2 linked regions of the Homo sapiens genome follow. Each later gene encodes a partner of the first gene's protein in a complex. Each region holds a gene or a part of one and is shown on either strand. Other genes may lie near its edges.

Region 1 (8,366 bases):
TGAAGGGGTCCTCCACCTCCACGTTCCATTCCTGTTCCACCTCAAGGTCACTGGGAACACCTTTCGCAGCAAACTGCTAATTCAATGAAGACCTGGAGGGAGCCAATTGTTCCAGTTCATCTATCACATGGCCAGTTGGTCCATTCAACAAATGGTTATTGGATGCCCATTATGTGGCAGGCACTGTTCCGGGGGAGAGGTACAGTAATCTAATAGGCTTATAAATGTGCAATTATGAACTAAGTACTTTGAAGAAAAGGAACAATGATTGGCATTAAAGCAGCACCCTTCTGTTGAGGGAGTAAGTCAGCAGCTCTAGGTTCTGAAAAGTGACAATGAAATTGTTTGGCTCCTGTAATAGCAATCATCAAGCCTAGAAGTAGAAAGTACCTAGCGGCTCTTCCCTTCCTTGCAAACCTGGCAGAAGGCATATACTAGGTCTCAAGAGAGTCCAGCATAGAAAGACTTCAGGGTGCTAAACATTTTAAATAGATTGTGTCATACAATTCTCACAATAATTCTAGGAGACAGGTGGTACTATTATTCTCATTTTACAGATTAAGAAATTGAGGCTGTAGGATGTTAAACGATTTGCCCAATGTCAACGGTATTTAGTGAATCTAGGATACAAACCCAAGTAGACTGACTCTAGAGCCCGCGTTCCTTTAACATTATAAAATATTGCTGTTGTGGCCTGGTAATTATAATAGCTAAAAAAATTATGGCGCACTTACTATATGCCAGGCATTCTCCTAACCACCTTACATACTACCCCTTTTAATCCTGACAGCAACCCCAGGAGGTATATACCAGTATTAGTATTTAACAGGTGAGGAAACTGAGGCACAAGAGATGTTAAGTTTACTTACCTGAAGTCACACAGGTTGTTATTTTTTTGTGGAGCTGGAATTTGATCCTAGGTAGTCTAACACTATAGCCTTGCACTTAACCACTACATCATACAAAGGAAGCAGGGGCATCTGCAGTGTAGAGGATGGTGAGGAGACAGAATTGGGCTGAGACACAGGAGGAGGTGGCAGTGGAATAGGGGCTGAAGAACCGTGAGAGTCTGGGGTATCTTGCTTGCACAACCCTCCAGGAACACGCGTGGGACCTGAGCTGACACTCTGATCACCCCCTTTTTTGTTGGGTGGTCTCTGGGAATGAGATAATAAATATATTACCACTACCTGCTACATTTCCTGAAAATTTCTTTGCCAAACTTCCAGCATTTTCTTTTTCTTTCCAGATTCTTAAGCAATCTCACTGGCCTTTAGGGGTTTATGTTAGTAACATGGAAATATGAAGACCGTGAACATGGCCCCTCTTCATTTAATCAACCTTAGTTCTTTCTATCATATCTGGTGTTATGTGGCTTTGTGGGGGTTTTGCTTGTTTTTGTTTACTTAAAAATATTTAATTGACAAAAATTGTTTATATTCAAGGTGTACAACATGATGATTTGATATGTGTATACACTGTGTAATGATTACCACAGTCAAATTGATTAACACATCTATCATCCATCACCATCCATAGTTACCATGGGGGTGGTGAGGACACTTAAAATCTGCTCTCTTATCAAATTTCAATAATACAGTATTATTAACTATGGTCACTATATTGCACATTAGATCCCCAGAGCTTATACATCCTATAAGTGAAAGTTTGTACACCAATGCTGACACCGAGGTGGGAGGATCGCTTGAGCTGTTCTCTGTTTTGGACATGCTCCTGCTCATTAATTTCCCCTAAGACGAGGCACTCAGAACTGAATGCAGGACTCTAGGTGTGGTCTGGCTTTGCAGAGTAAGTGGCATGTTACCTTCCTCTGTCTAGATATTTTACTTCCATAAGGAAGCCTCAATGTCACCTTGGCTTTTCTGGAAGCCATGTTAACTGATGACATGCCTTTTGATTACTATCAGCAAAAACCCCTGAACCATTTTCACAAATGCTACTGCTACTCCACTTTCTCCTGGAGTCATTTGAAGTTCAAATTTGGGGCCCAATTATGAGACATCACCTTTAGCCCTGGTAAAATACACTTTGTGGAATTTGGCTTCTCACACCAGGTGATCAAGATCTTTTTGGGAACTAATTGCCCTCTTCTGTCATCCAGTCTAGCACACAAAGCCTTGCACCATTCATAGACTAACCGGGCTACTTTTTATATTTTCCTCAAAGATGATCAATAAAAATGCTGAACAGGATAGCACCAAGAATAGAACCTTATATTGCATTGGGAATCTCTTCAGGTGACACTCAGCTGTTTATTTGCACTATCTGAGTACAGTCTTTCTGTCAGTATGGATGAGTGTGCTAGGGGAGTGGTCGTGGGCAGAGGGTGAAGAAAAGCCTACGTCTACTTGCTCTTTTCCCTTGTGCTCCTCTCTCTCTCTTGTTTAGCTCTCCCATTGGATGCCTATCACCTCCCAGTCCCCACCCCAAGATGGATCTTGAGAAAGGACAGGGCATGTGACAACAAGTGGCATAAGACTGAAGAAAAGAGCCTGGGCACGGTGGCTCACGCATGTAATCCCAGCACTTTGGGAAGCTGAGGCGGGTGGATCACGAGGTCAGGAGATCGAGACCATCCTGGCTAACATGGTGAAACCCCGTCTCTACTAAAAATACAAAAAATTAGCCAGGCGTGGTGGCAGGCACCTGTAGTCCCAACTACTCAGGAGACTGAGGCAGGACAATGGCGTGAACCCGGGAGGTGGAGCTTGCAGTGAGCCGAGATCATGCCACTGCACTCCAGCCTGGGCGACAGGGCAAGACTCCGTCTCAAAAAAAAAAAAAACTGAAGAAAAGAGGAGGGAAGATGAATGCCTGTGGCCAACCCTCAGGCAGGTGAGTGGAACAGCTATTGGGGGTGACTAGCGAAAGGATAGACGTTGTCAATAAAGTAAGGCAATCATACAACACATGCTGTCCATCTGTCTTGTGCAAATGTGAGTATCAACCACTCTATCATCAGTCTACAAATACTTTAAATGTTTTTATTTAAAGTCCTGTTGATGGCTGGGAGAGGTGGCTCACTCCTGTAATCCCTGCATTTTGGGAGGCCAAGGCAGGAGTATCGCTTGAGCCCAGGAGTTTGAGACCAGCCTGGGCAACATAGTGAAACCCCATCTCTACAAAAAGTAGAAAAATTAGCCCAGCACAGTGATGTGTGCCTATAGTCCCAGGTACTAGGGTGACTGAGGTGAGAGGATCACTTGAGCCCAGGAGGTGGAGGCTGCAGTGAGCCATGATCACGCCACTGCACTCCAACCTGGGCTTCAGAGCAAGACCCTGTCTCAAAAAAAAAAAAAAAAAAAAAAGGTCCCAGGGCCTGTTGGGGCTTGGGGGTGAGGGGAGGGATCTTAGAGGATGGGTCAATAGGTGCAGCAAATCACCATGTCACACATATACCTATGTAACAAACTTGCACCTTCTGCACATATACCCCATTTTTTTTGTTTGCTTGTTTGTTTGTTTTTTAGACAAAATAAAGAAAAAAAAATAAGGTCCTGTTGACTTAAAACTTCGGATGAAATTGTAGTGGGACCTGTGATCTGTTTCTACATTAGGATACAGTGCCTTGGGGCAAGGAAATATGGCAGTGCCCGAGGTGTCAAGGTGGGCAGGCAGATCAGTCAGCAGGGGCTCCACCATCATGGTCTGCATTCAATACTGGCTGCATTTCCTAGGAGAATCCCTGGGGGAATCATTGCAGTTGGAGCATAATGTAGGGGGCCCCTGAGAAAACCTCCAGGCTTCAAGTGACATACCTAGTCTGCTTTACCGGTTTACAGGACTCAAGAGAAAGGTGGACATTGAGAGTTAATCCCTGAGGCCAAATCTTAAATGGAGAAAGTCAACATCCACAGAAAATGGGGAAGGGCACAAGTATTTCTGTGGGCTTATATTCCGACATTTTTATCTGTAGGGGAAAAATGCTTTCTTAGAAAATGACTCAGCACGGGGAAGTCTTGTCTCTACCTCTGTCTTGTTTTGTCCTTTGGGGTCCCTTCACTATCAAGTTCAACTGTGTGTCCCTGAGACTCCTCTGCCCCGGAGGACAGGAGACTCGAAAAACGCTCTTCCTGGCCAGTCTCTTTGCTCTGTGTCTGCCAGCCCCCAGCATCTCTCCTCTTTCCTGTAAGCCCCTCTCCCTGTGCTGACTGTCTTCATAGTACTTTAGGTATGTTGTCCCTTTACCTCTGGGAGGATAGCTTGATGACCTGTCTGCTCAGGCCAGCCCCATCTAGAGTCTCAGTGGCCCCAGTCATGTTGAGAAAGGTTCTTTCAAAGATAGACTCAAGATAGTAGTGTCAGAGGTCCCAAGCAAATGAAGGGCGGGGACAGTTGAGGGGGTGGAATAGGGACGGCAGCAGGGAACCAGATAGCATGCTGCTGAGAAGAAAAAAAGACATTGGTTTAGGTCAGGAAGCAAAAAAAGGGAACTGAGTGGCTGTGAAAGGGTGGGGTTTGCTCAGACTGTCCTTCCTCTCTGGACTGTAAGAATATGTCTCCAGGGCCAGTGTCTGCTGCGATCGAGTCCCACCTTCCAAGTCCTGGCATCTCAATGCATCTGGGAAGCTACCTGCATTAAGTCAGGACTGAGGTGGGTCTGGGGTATGGCAGGGGCTGGGCAGCAGCAGCAATGTACCTTGCTTGGGACCCCTAAAAACCAGAGAGACAGCATGGCTGGTGCCATTTATCAGCTAGTGGAGGAGGCTGACGGAGGGTGGGAGTGTCATCAGCACAAGGCCCTGGCAGTCCCTTCTGGTGATTAGAGAGGCCGAAAGGGTCCTTTCCGACAAGGGCTGAGGGTGGGCGGAACAGGAAGAGAAAAATGTGACATGAGGTGACCATCCGAACAGGTAGCAAATGTTAGAAAGGGGTACCTCTGGCAAACTTAGTGGAAAAGTAATATTGCAGGGAGCAGTCAGATAAAAACAAGCCCTTCTGTCAAATAGTGCTTGAAGACTCAATAGGGATACATGGGTCAATGAAGCCTTTAGAAAAAGAAATACTAAGAGGCAGATTCTCTGAGAACATGGTAAAAGCTCACGCTCCACGTTATGAAGTTGACCTTTGTGAGCTAGGGAAAGGCCTGGCTAGGCCAGGGTGTAGGCTACCTGCCTTGAGCTGTACCAGGCCAAATGTCGCCAGGGTCAGAGCTGGCTTATTAAAGGACTGTGTGGAAGCTGTGCCAACCTCGTGGTAACAATGGGTAAAAGACTGGGCCAGGAGAAAGCAGCCTCTGCCTCAGCCCAGACAGTGCGGCCAACCCTTGAGGTTGTGGCAAAGGTTTCTCCTCTTACCATTGCCCTCCATGTGCATGGCTTGCTTTTCTCTTGTCTTCATTATTTCTCCTTTCCTTTCCTCCTCTCCAACCTCCTCCTCTTCCCACTCATCCTCTTTTCTCTACCTATATCCCCTCTTCATTATACCCTCCTCTGTTCTGTTGATTACCAGACCCTGACATACAGTTAGCACTTAACAAATAATTGCCGAATTGCATTGACTTTTTCTTGCTCCTTTCTTCCCCCGCTCTTTTCCCTTTTCCTTTCCCTTTCCATTTCCTCCTCCCTGCCTGCCTAGCACCTTCCCCATAAGGTGGTTGTGAGCAGTAAATGTGCAAATACATGTAAAGCTTTTAAAACAGGGCCTGGCAATAGTAAGTGCTGGATCTCAGTATTTGCTATAATTTTTACTCTGCCTCAGACCTGCCAATGTCCCCCAGAGGGCCTACCTAGAGCAAATAATATGACATTTAGAATAAAAGTGATTGGTGACCCCAATCAAGACATCCTTGGATAAGTTGCCCAGACTCCAGCCTCTCTGGAGCCTCAGTTATTTGATAAAATAATGTCACTTTCCAAATAAGCCACAAAATGCAAATACTCATGGCAACCTAAAGCATTATACCCAAACAGTGTCCCTTAGGGCTTGTCCTGTCTATTCTGACTCCTTTTATATTCAAACTATTTAAACTGCTTGCTTGTGTTGAAGTCCAAATTTCCATTGCGTATGGCTATTGATATTTTTGTTTGGAATTTTTTTTTTTTTTTTTTGACACGGAGTTTCACTCTTGCTGCCCAGGCTGGAGTGCAATGGCACGATCTCGGGATCTCAGCTCACCGCAACCTCCGCCTCCCGGGTTCAAACAATTCTCCTGCCTCAGCCTCCCAAGTAGCTGGGATTACAGGCATGTGCCACCACGCCCAGCTAATTTTGTATTTCTAGTAGAGACGGGGTTTCTCCATGTTGGTCAGGCTGGTCTCGAACTCCCAACCTCAGGTGATCTGCCTGCTTGGGCCTCCCAAAGTGCTAGGATTACAGGCGTGAGCCACCGCACCCACCCTGGAATTCTTTGTAAACTCCTTATGGTGCGAACTAATGTAACTTTCCATCCAGTTATGGGGGATTGGTGCAATTTTAAATTATCACTATGATTTGCTATTTCCATTTGAGCAAATTTCCTATAGAGTTTCCTTTCAGTGGACTAGACCCATATCAGGAAGTGACTTAGGTATAAAGGGAAGATACAGCTTTCGAAAACCAAAGTTTGGGCGTTCTCCAAAGAGTTATCAGATACCCCCTTCTACACCCACAATGATCTGATTGCTGAGATCTGATTGCTAACTACTGAAAATAAGGAAGAACTAGAATTTTCAGTGACACAGTGCTCAGCAAGAAGCTAGAAAAGAGGCCTTGACATATTTGACTCCAAAGCTACTTGGTTATGCATGAAGCCATCTGGGGAGGGGAAGGAGGAGGGAGAACTCCTCTGAGGACCCTGAAACAATTGGGCCACGTGTGACTTTCAGTTTCTATGGAGATTCATGTGCAGTGGCTGAGGGCAATCTGAGAGCATTGGAAACCCAGAAGCTTTAATACCAGGCTCTTCTCTCCGCTCTTAGAAAGTTCTCACAAGATGTCTTTAGGATTATATTGGTTATTTGAATCTCAAGGAGAAGCTCCTCTCACTGCCCTACCTCCCTGAACTGAAAACAAACTGTAGTCTGTTAGCTCACCCTAGAAGAAGGAAATTCTAGAGTCAAGAGAAGTTAAGTTTTAGACAAGCTGGAAGTTGGAATATACTGGAGTTTAAGATCATTGACTCAATGAAAAAAAAAAAAGATTTGTCTGCAGTAAAACCAGAGTTTTAAAAATGATTAGAAATGGACCAGAAAAGAGATAAGGATAATGAGAAAGGGGGCTCTCTAAAACTATTTGGAACTGAAATTGGGACAATGTTTCTGGAAACTATTTTGGCAGTATGTATCAAAATGCAAAATGCACATACTTTTTTGACTCTGGAAATGATGCTTGTATAGAGATCCTAATAACATGGGAAAATAATTAGGAATAATGTTAAATAAGAACATTAGATCTTTTTTTGGAAAAAGGTACCTTGAACGGATGGATGGATGGATAGATACATACATACATGCATACATACATACATAGATGTTACGAAAAATAGGTAAATTAACTGAATGTGCAATATGATCTCAAATATTATAAGAAACACACACAGAAAAAAATGGAAGGAATATGCCGATATATTAATGCCTCTGGATGAGTTTATGAATGATTTTTTCTTTTTTATATCCCTGTACTTGACATATTTTCTACAATAAGCATGTTTTATTTTACTATATTTTGTTTTATTTTGAGATGGGGGTCTCCCTATGTTTCTCAGGCTGACCTTGAACTCTTGGGCTCAAGCAATCCTCCAATATCAGCCTCCTGAGTAGCTGGGACTACAGGTGCACCCCACTGCACCCAGCTGCGTGTGTTATTTTGATATCGATGGAAAAAATAAATAAAATGTTTAAGCCAAGGAAAACAAAAACTAGGTTGAAAAAGAAGGCCAAAAGGGCACACAAGTCCAGAGTGAAAGACAGACACCCCAGCAGTCACCCTCAGAGCAGAGGGAGAATATTGAAAGTATTACCACTGATCTGATCTGGCACTGACTATAAACTTGCAGATTGGCTCTCTGGCTCTCCTTCCATCATCAGTTGGCCAGAATATATTGTCGCTAATGCAAGACAAAAAGAGATGATGAATCACAGAGACCTAGAAGTTTCCAAAACCACAGAAGAAAAATGTAAAATGCTAAAAACATAAGGCCAGGCGCGGTGGCTCAAGCCTGTAATCCCAGCATTTTGGGAGGCCGAGGCAGGTGTCATGGTGTGCGGCTGTAGTCCAAGCTACTCAGGAGGCTGAGGCAAGAGAATTGCTTGAAACTGGGAGGTAGCGATTGCAGTGAGCCAAGATTGCGCTACTGTACCGAAGCCTGGATGACAGAGCGAGACTCTGTCTCAAAAATAAATAAATAAATAAATAAATAAATAAAA
Region 2 (7,884 bases), on another chromosome or scaffold:
CGGGCAGAGACACAACAAAAAAAGAGAATTTTAGACCAATATCCTTGATGAACATTGATGCAAAAATCCTCAATAAAATACTGGCAAAACGAATCCAGCAGCATATCAAAAAGCTTATCCACCATGATCAAGTGGGCTTCATCCCTGGGATGCAAGGCTGGTTCAATATACGCAAATCAATAAATGTAATCCAGCATATAAACAGAGCCAAAGACAAAAACCACATGATTATCTCAATAGATGCAGAAAAAGCCTTTGACAAAATTCAACAACCCTTCATGCTAAAAACTCTCAATAAATTAGGTATTGATGGGACCTATTTCAAAATAATAAGAGCTATCTATGACAAACCCACAGCCAATATCATACTGAATGGGCAAAAACTGGAAGCATTCCCTTTGAAAACGGGCACAAGACAGGGATGCCCTCTCTCACCACTCCTATTCAACATAGTGTTGGAAGTTCTGGCCAGGGCAATTAGGCAGGAGAAGGAAATAAAGGGTATTCAATTAGGAAAAGAGGAAGTCAAATTGTCCCTGTTTGCAGACGACATGATTGTATATCTAGAAAACCCCATTGTCTCAGCCCAAAATCTCCTTAAGCTGATAAGCAACTTCAGCAAAGTCTCAGGATACAAAATCAATGTACAAAAATCACAAGCATTCTTATACACCAACAACAGACAAACAGAGAGCCAAATCATGAGTGAACTCCCATTCACAATTGCTTCAAAGAGAATAAAATACCTAGGAATCCAACTTACAAGGGATGTGAAGGACCTCTTCAAGGAGAACTACAAACCACTGCTCAAGGAAATAAAAGAGGATACAAACAAATGGAAGAATATTCCATGCTCATGGGTAGGAAGAATCAATATCGTGAAAATGGCCATACTGCCCAAGGTAATTTACAGATTCAATGTCATCCCCATCAAGCTACCAATGACTTTCTTCACAGAATTGGAAAAAACTACTTTAAAGTTCATATGGAACCAAAAAAGAGCCCGCATTGCCAAGTCAATCCTAAGCCAAAAGAACAAAGCTGGAGGCATCACACTACCTGACTTCAAACTATACTACAAGGCTACAGTAACCAAAACAGCATGGTACTGGTACAAAAACAGAGATATAGATCAATGGAACAGAACAGAGCCCTCAGAAATAACACCGCGTATCTATAACTATCTGATCTTTGACAAACCTGAGAAAAACAAGCAATGGGGAAAGGATTCCCTATTTAATAAATGGTGCTGGGAAAACTGGCTAGCCATATGTAGAAAGCTGAAACTGGATCCCTTCCTTACACCTTATACAAAAATCAATTCAAGATGGATTAAAGATTTAAATGTTAGACCTAAAACCATAAAAACCCTAGAAGAAAACCTAGGCATTACCATTCAGGACATAGGCATGGGCAAGGACTTCATGTCCAAAACACCAAAAGCAATGGCAACAAAAGCCAAAATTGACAAATGGGATCTAATTCAACTAAAGAGCTTCTGCACAGCAAAAGAAACTACCATCAGAGTGAACAGGCAACCTACAAAATGGGAGAAAATTTTCGCAACCTACTCATCTGACAAAGGGCTAATAACCAGAATCTACAATGAACTCAAACAAATTTACAAGACAAAAACAAACAACCCCATCAAAAAGTGGGCAAAGGACATGAACAGGCACTTCTCAAAAGAAGACATTTATGCAGCCAAAAAACACATGAAAAAATGCTCATCATCACTGGCCATCAGAGAAATGCAAATCAAAACCACAATGAGATACCATCTCACACCAGTTAGAATGGCAATCATTAAAAAGTCAGGAAACAACAGGTGCTGGAGAGGATGTGGAGAAATAGGAACACTTTTACACTGTTGGTGGGACTGTAAACTAGTTCAAGCATTGTGGAAGTCAGTGTGGCGATTCCTCAGGGATCTAGAACTAGAAATACCATTTGACCCAGCCATCCCATTACTGGGTATATACCCAAATGACTATAAATCATGCTGCTATAAAGACACATGCACACGTATGTTTATTGCGGCATTATTCACAATAGCAAAGACTTGGAACCAACCCAAATGTCCAACAATGATAGACCGGATTAAGAAAATGTGGCACATATACACCATGGAATACTATGCAGCCATAAAAAATGATGAGTTCGTGTCCTTTGTAGGGACATGGATGAAATTGGAAATCATCATTCTCAGTAAACTATCGCAAGAACGAAAAACCAAACACCGCATATTCTCACTCATAGGTGGGAACTGAACAATGAGATCACATGGACACAGGAAGGGGAATATCACACTCTGGGGACTGTGGTGGGGTGGGGGGAGGGGGGAGGGATAGCATTGGGAGATATACCTAATGCTAGATGATGAGTTAGTGGGTGCAGCGCACCAGCATGGCACATGTATACATATGTAACTAACCTGCACAATGTGCACATGTACCCTAAAACTTAAAGTATAATTAAAAAAAAATAGAAAAAAGAAAAAAAAAAATTTATTGAAGGAATAAATGATTACTCAAAATACTTGTTTTGAGAGGCCGAGACTTAATACTATCTGGACGAATACAAAAATCAGTTTTCCTGTTATCCTTGGATTGGGCAGGTGGTTCTCATCAAGCCCCAGAATTTCATTGTAAGTTCTATTTTGTGTATGAGGATCACTTAGCAAGGATTAGGGAGTAAAGTATCCTATTAAAAATATGATTTGCAGAAACTTAAAAAAAAAAACAGGTTGAAAAAAGACCTGCATCCAACTTTAACATCTTGCTTTTTCAAAACAATTTAAATTTGTTATGTATGAGAAAGAAATGGAATACAGCTCAAGAAAGAGCTTATTATGCTAAAATTCTCTGATTGGCATAAATCAGAGAACCTCATCCGAAAATAAATGTATAGAAAAAAGCGGCAGTCAATGGTTCTCAACTAGAAGCAATTGAAAGGGGTAGAAAAGGAGGGATGGTTTCGAAATGACTGGAGGACTGCTACCAGCAGTTAGTGGATGTGAAACAAGCATGGTGTCCTGTAACATGTGAGACAGTCCTAAGAGCTCCACTGAGAAACAATGCAGGTGACTAACATCCCCAAATACCTGATGCCATTTCTTCAGCTTGTTTTTCCTTCTCCTCTTCTCTTTTTTCATCTTCAGCATTAAGAAGTGCTGACACAATATCATTAACTGTTTTATAGTTCTCTCCAGTTGTCAGGATTTTACTTTGAACTGTTTGTTTCACCAGGTCTCTATTAAAGCCCATTTCCAAGGCAGATTTAACCACAGGTGTATTCATCATGACAGCATCTTCTGAAGAACTTTCTCCAGGTCCAAAATGAATAACTATTTGAAAAGAAACATGCTAATATTAAATTCCACAAACATAAACCTATGGAAAAAAGTATCATGGCACAATCTTTATTCATCCTTTACTCTCATATTCTGGTAAAGGAGATGAGCTATATGCATCGATTACCTATAACTCCAATAAAAGTTTGAACTTCATAATGGTCAAATGAGAATACAATTAATATGCTATACTTTTTACAAAACCCACCTCTCTGGCTACATCCTAGACTTACTTAATGAAAGATTCTCTAAGGATAAGAATTAGGAATCTGTATCTTTTGAATATTTCCCAAATGATTCTGATGTATAGTCATTTCTGGAAACCAATATGCTATACGAACTTAGAAGTGAGAAATAATCTTCTCCAGCCAGGAAAGTGGGGGGAAATCACAAAGACTTCATGGAAAAGTGGCGCATTAGAGTTTGGACTTGAAGGATGGACAGGGTCTAGACAAGTGGATTGCTGAGGTAGAGAGAATAACATAAACAAAAATGGGAAGTATAGTAAAATAGAAGATCAGTTCACCCAGAAGATGTAGTGAAAAAGTATGGCTTCAGAAGTAATTAAGGCAGTATGATTTTAGACAGTGACAGATGCTCTGAAGAAAAAAGTAGTGTAAGGTCATTAAAAGAAACCAGGAAGCAGGAAGTCATTTTAGATAGGGTAGTCAGGGAAGCATTTTCTGCTAAGAGTCAATGCTAGCCCATATGATACTTTTATGAAAAAATACAAAAAGACATAATTCTTCAAGACACTACTGCCATCTTCTGGAAACTTATAATAAATATACAACGTCAACAATGTCCCCTCTTGTTCAAACACGCGTGGAATCCGTGTCCGAAGAAATGGCACCAGAACAAAGATTTAAATAACAAGGAATGAGCTCTATTTCATTTTTAAGCGCATGCCTTGAGGAAATACTTTATGTTCAAGATAAGAGACACATTAGAGGATCATTACAGCAATATTTACAGCAGAAAAAAAAAAACAGAAAATAACAGGAATAGCTCTCAATAGGGAATGGATAAATAAAATGCAATATATGCTGGACTACTGTGAAAAAATTTAAAAATATACAAACGAACTAAACTGGTATATACCTAGCCCATGCTACTGAGCTCTGGGTATTAGAAGTTAGAAACAGAACTGTATGTAAGCATCAGAGGGGAATTTGGCATTGCCTACAGCATTTAGTTTTCTTTCCCTTATGAAGAATGTATACATCTATTACATGTAAAATTATTAATACTGGGGGGAAAAAGGAGTGAGCTATGGAAATATCTCAAAGAAGTCTTCTAAGCAAAGAGAACAGCAAGTGTAAAAACCTTAAATTGAGGGAAAAGCTTGACATGATCAAGAAACAGAAAGAAGGTGGTAGAAGGTAAAAAAAGGAGGACAATGCCCAGATAAGCAGAGGCTTCCTAAGAGTTTATATTTTATTCTAAGTTTGGTAGAATATTCTAGGAGTGTTTCAAGCATGCAACTGATAAAACTTGACTTGTGTTTTCAGAAGATGACTCTGGCAGCTCGGTGGAGATGTTACTTTAATGGGGTAAACCAGAATCAGGAAGACTTGTTAGGATGTTAGACACAGATGACGGTAGTTTGGATTAGGTTAATAGTGGTGGAGGGCCGGGCATGGTGGCTCATGCCTGTAATCCCAGCACTTTGGGAGCCAAGGCGGGCGGATCATGAGGTGAGGAGATCGAGACCATCCTGGCTAATCCAGTGAAACCCCATCTCTACTAAAAAAAAATACAAAAAATTAGCCGGGCGTGGTGGTGGGCGCCTGTAGTCCCAGCTACCTGGGAGGCTGAGGCAAGAGAATGGCGTGAACCCGGCGGGTGGAGCTTCCAGTGAGCCAAAATTGCGCCACTGCACTCCAGCCTGGGCAACAGAGCAAGACTCCATCTCAAAAAAAAAAAACAGTGGTGGAGATGGTGAGATGTAGTCAGATTTGGCATATGTTATGAAGACAGAAATGAAAAGACTTCTGATAGATTAAATATACAAACTAAAGGAAGGAGAGGAATCAGAGATGATGCCTAACTTGAGCCAACTTTTAATGCTGGGAAATGAGTACCATTAACTGAGATGGGGAAGACCAAAGAAGGAACAAATCTGAGGGATGAAGAATGGGGAAGAAAATTTCCGGTTTGGTCATATTAACTCTACAATGTCTGTTACAGCCAAGTAGAGATTTAAACAGTTAGCTGGACATTCCAGCTTGGGGCTCAGGAAATGGAGAAATAAATTTAAGCTGAGCTATGAGGGGTACTCCAACATTTTGAAGTTTGAAAAAGGAGCAGCCAACAAAGGAAATTGTTCAGGACCAACCAGGGAAATAGAAAACCAAGAGTATGGGGTCTGATAAGTCAAGCAAAAAATGTGTCTTAAGAAAGATGAGGCCAAATGCAGTGGCTCATGCCTGCAATCCCAGCACTATGGGAGGCCGAGGCAGGCAGATTGCTTAAGCTCAAGAGTTTGAGACCAGCCTGGGCAACATGGTGAAACCCTGTATCTACAAACACACACACACACACACACACACACACTTAGCTGAATGTGATGGTGCATGCCTGTAGTCCCAGCTACTTGGGAGGCTGAGGTGAGAGAATCACCTGAGCCAGGGAAGTTAAGGCTGCAGTGAGCCATGATGGCACCTAACCACACTACAGCCTGGGTGACAAAGTGAGACCTTGTTTCACAAAAAGAAAAAACAACGACAAAGCACCCAGTGATTATCAAATGCTAATTAACAGGTCAAGTAGTGGATTTGCTAACACGGCAGTCCCTGGTTACCATGACAAGAACAGTTTCTAGCAGAACAAGTGAAAGAATGAAAGGTGAGGAAGTAAAACAGAGTTAAGCACAGATAAATCTTCCTAGGTATTTTGTTGTAAAGGGAAGCAGAGTAATAAGGTAATAGCTGAATGGGGACATTCATTCATGGAAATTTTCCTAGGATTAGCAAAAGTACATTATGTTTATATGCTAACATGAGTGATTCAGGAGAGGTGGAAAAATTGAAGACTCGAGAGAAAGGGTATGTCACTGCCAAAGTAACCTTCTTAAGTTGACAGTAGGGGATGGAATACAGAGGACAAGTAGAAGTAATGGCCTTAGAAAAGGGCAAGGACAATTCATCTTTTATGAACAAACAGAAAAGTACAAGGATAAATTATGTAGCCTAGTGGTTTTGCTGGTGAGGCAATAAAGCAGCTCTCTTTTGGATTCTATTTTCTTAGGGAAGCAAGATTATAAACTGACAGTAAGGTGGGAAGAGAGTGTTAGAAAATTATCAAGACAGAAAACAAGAAACAGTCATTTTAAAGATTGACAAAGTGATTTTATTAGGACCTATGGTAGAACTGCAGGGCAGCCTACTTAATAGCAGTGGTTATAAATTTTAAGAACAGCCCACACTGCTATCTATCTTTTCTAGGTCTATTACACGGGAGATAGTTGTCATGTACCCAGGTACTCTCCTTCCTATTTTCCAGTACTCTCCTTCCTATTTTCCAGTCAAATACTACCAAATCCTTCATCCAATCCTCCTGAGCCATGGTTTCTAAGACTCATACATCTTGGTCACCTTTCTCTGGTCCAGTTAACAAATCTGCCAATCTTTCTTGAAATGCTGTGCCACAAACAGAATGGCCCTTTGTAGATGTGATTGGCACATAAAACGGGATTACTACCTTAGCCATTTTAGACACAATAACATATGTATATTACATAAATTGACAGATGTGGCTAACATTAAGCTCTAATCAAAAGCTATACTATTTCCTGCCCTTGCACTGAAATACAACATACCTGACTTAAATACCTAACATCTAGTCCAATTCTTGAATCATATGTGAATTGACGTTTTCCAAATCATGCCAACTCACAGCAAACTCTTCTTTTCTGGAGGGTTTATTATTTGCACCGCTTATTTGGCATTGCTTTGAACTATTTTTTGTTTTTCTTTTGCTTATGTCTCATTTCTCCAGTTGGAATGTCAGCACTAAAAGTGATAAGTATAGCACTAGAACAAAAACTAGTACACTTTTAGGGTCCTCCACAGTGTCATTACACTCTCTCTCTCTCTCTCTCTCTCTCTCTCTGTGTGTGTGTGTATATATATATATATATATATATATATATATATATAATATTTATTAGCTGACTTCCCAGTATTTTTCCCTATGGCTTCAGAAACTCTTTTAAAAAATACATACTTTCATTCCTACCTTTTTTTTTGGAGATGGAGTTTCGCTCTGTTGCCCAGGATGGAGTGCAATGGCATAATCTCAGTTCACTGCAACCTCCACCTCCTGGGTTCAAGCAATTCTCCTGCCTCAGCCTCCCGAGTAGCTGAGACTACAGGCACATCACACCCGGCTAAGTTTTGTATTTTTAGTAGATGGAGTTTTACTATGTTGGCCAGGCTGGTCTCGAACTCCTGACCTCAGGTGATCTGTCAACCTCGGCCTCTCAAAGTGTTGGGATTACAGGCATGAGCCACTGCACCCAGCCTATTCCT

Evidence for each region.
Region 2: the proteins of BTK (region 1) and BIRC2 are in contact, whole or in part, in a crystal structure (PDB 6W7O), measured with the Homo sapiens proteins. Residues at the interface, in NP_000052.1 of Homo sapiens: Leu483, Asn484, Arg487, Glu488, Tyr551, Ser557, Lys558, Arg562, Lys595, Met596, Tyr598, Glu599, Arg600, Phe601, Thr602, Glu605; in NP_001157.1 of Homo sapiens: Pro280, Ser281, Ser282, Asn301, Asp302, Asp303, Arg314, Cys315, Glu317, Ser318.

What each region holds. Positions count from the first base shown.
Region 1 is NC_000023.11:101,382,311-101,390,676, reverse strand, and holds the start of BTK (tyrosine-protein kinase BTK), read left to right. Parts: upstream 1-4,485; 5' UTR 4,486-4,615; intron 4,616-8,366. UniProt on the Homo sapiens protein: Non-receptor tyrosine kinase indispensable for B lymphocyte development, differentiation and signaling. Binding of antigen to the B-cell antigen receptor (BCR) triggers signaling that ultimately leads to B-cell activation.
Region 2 is NC_000011.10:102,363,768-102,371,651, reverse strand, and holds part of BIRC2 (baculoviral IAP repeat-containing protein 2), read right to left. Parts: intron 3,347-7,884; coding exon 3,104-3,346; intron 1-3,103. UniProt on the Homo sapiens protein: Multi-functional protein which regulates not only caspases and apoptosis, but also modulates inflammatory signaling and immunity, mitogenic kinase signaling, and cell proliferation, as well as cell invasion and metastasis.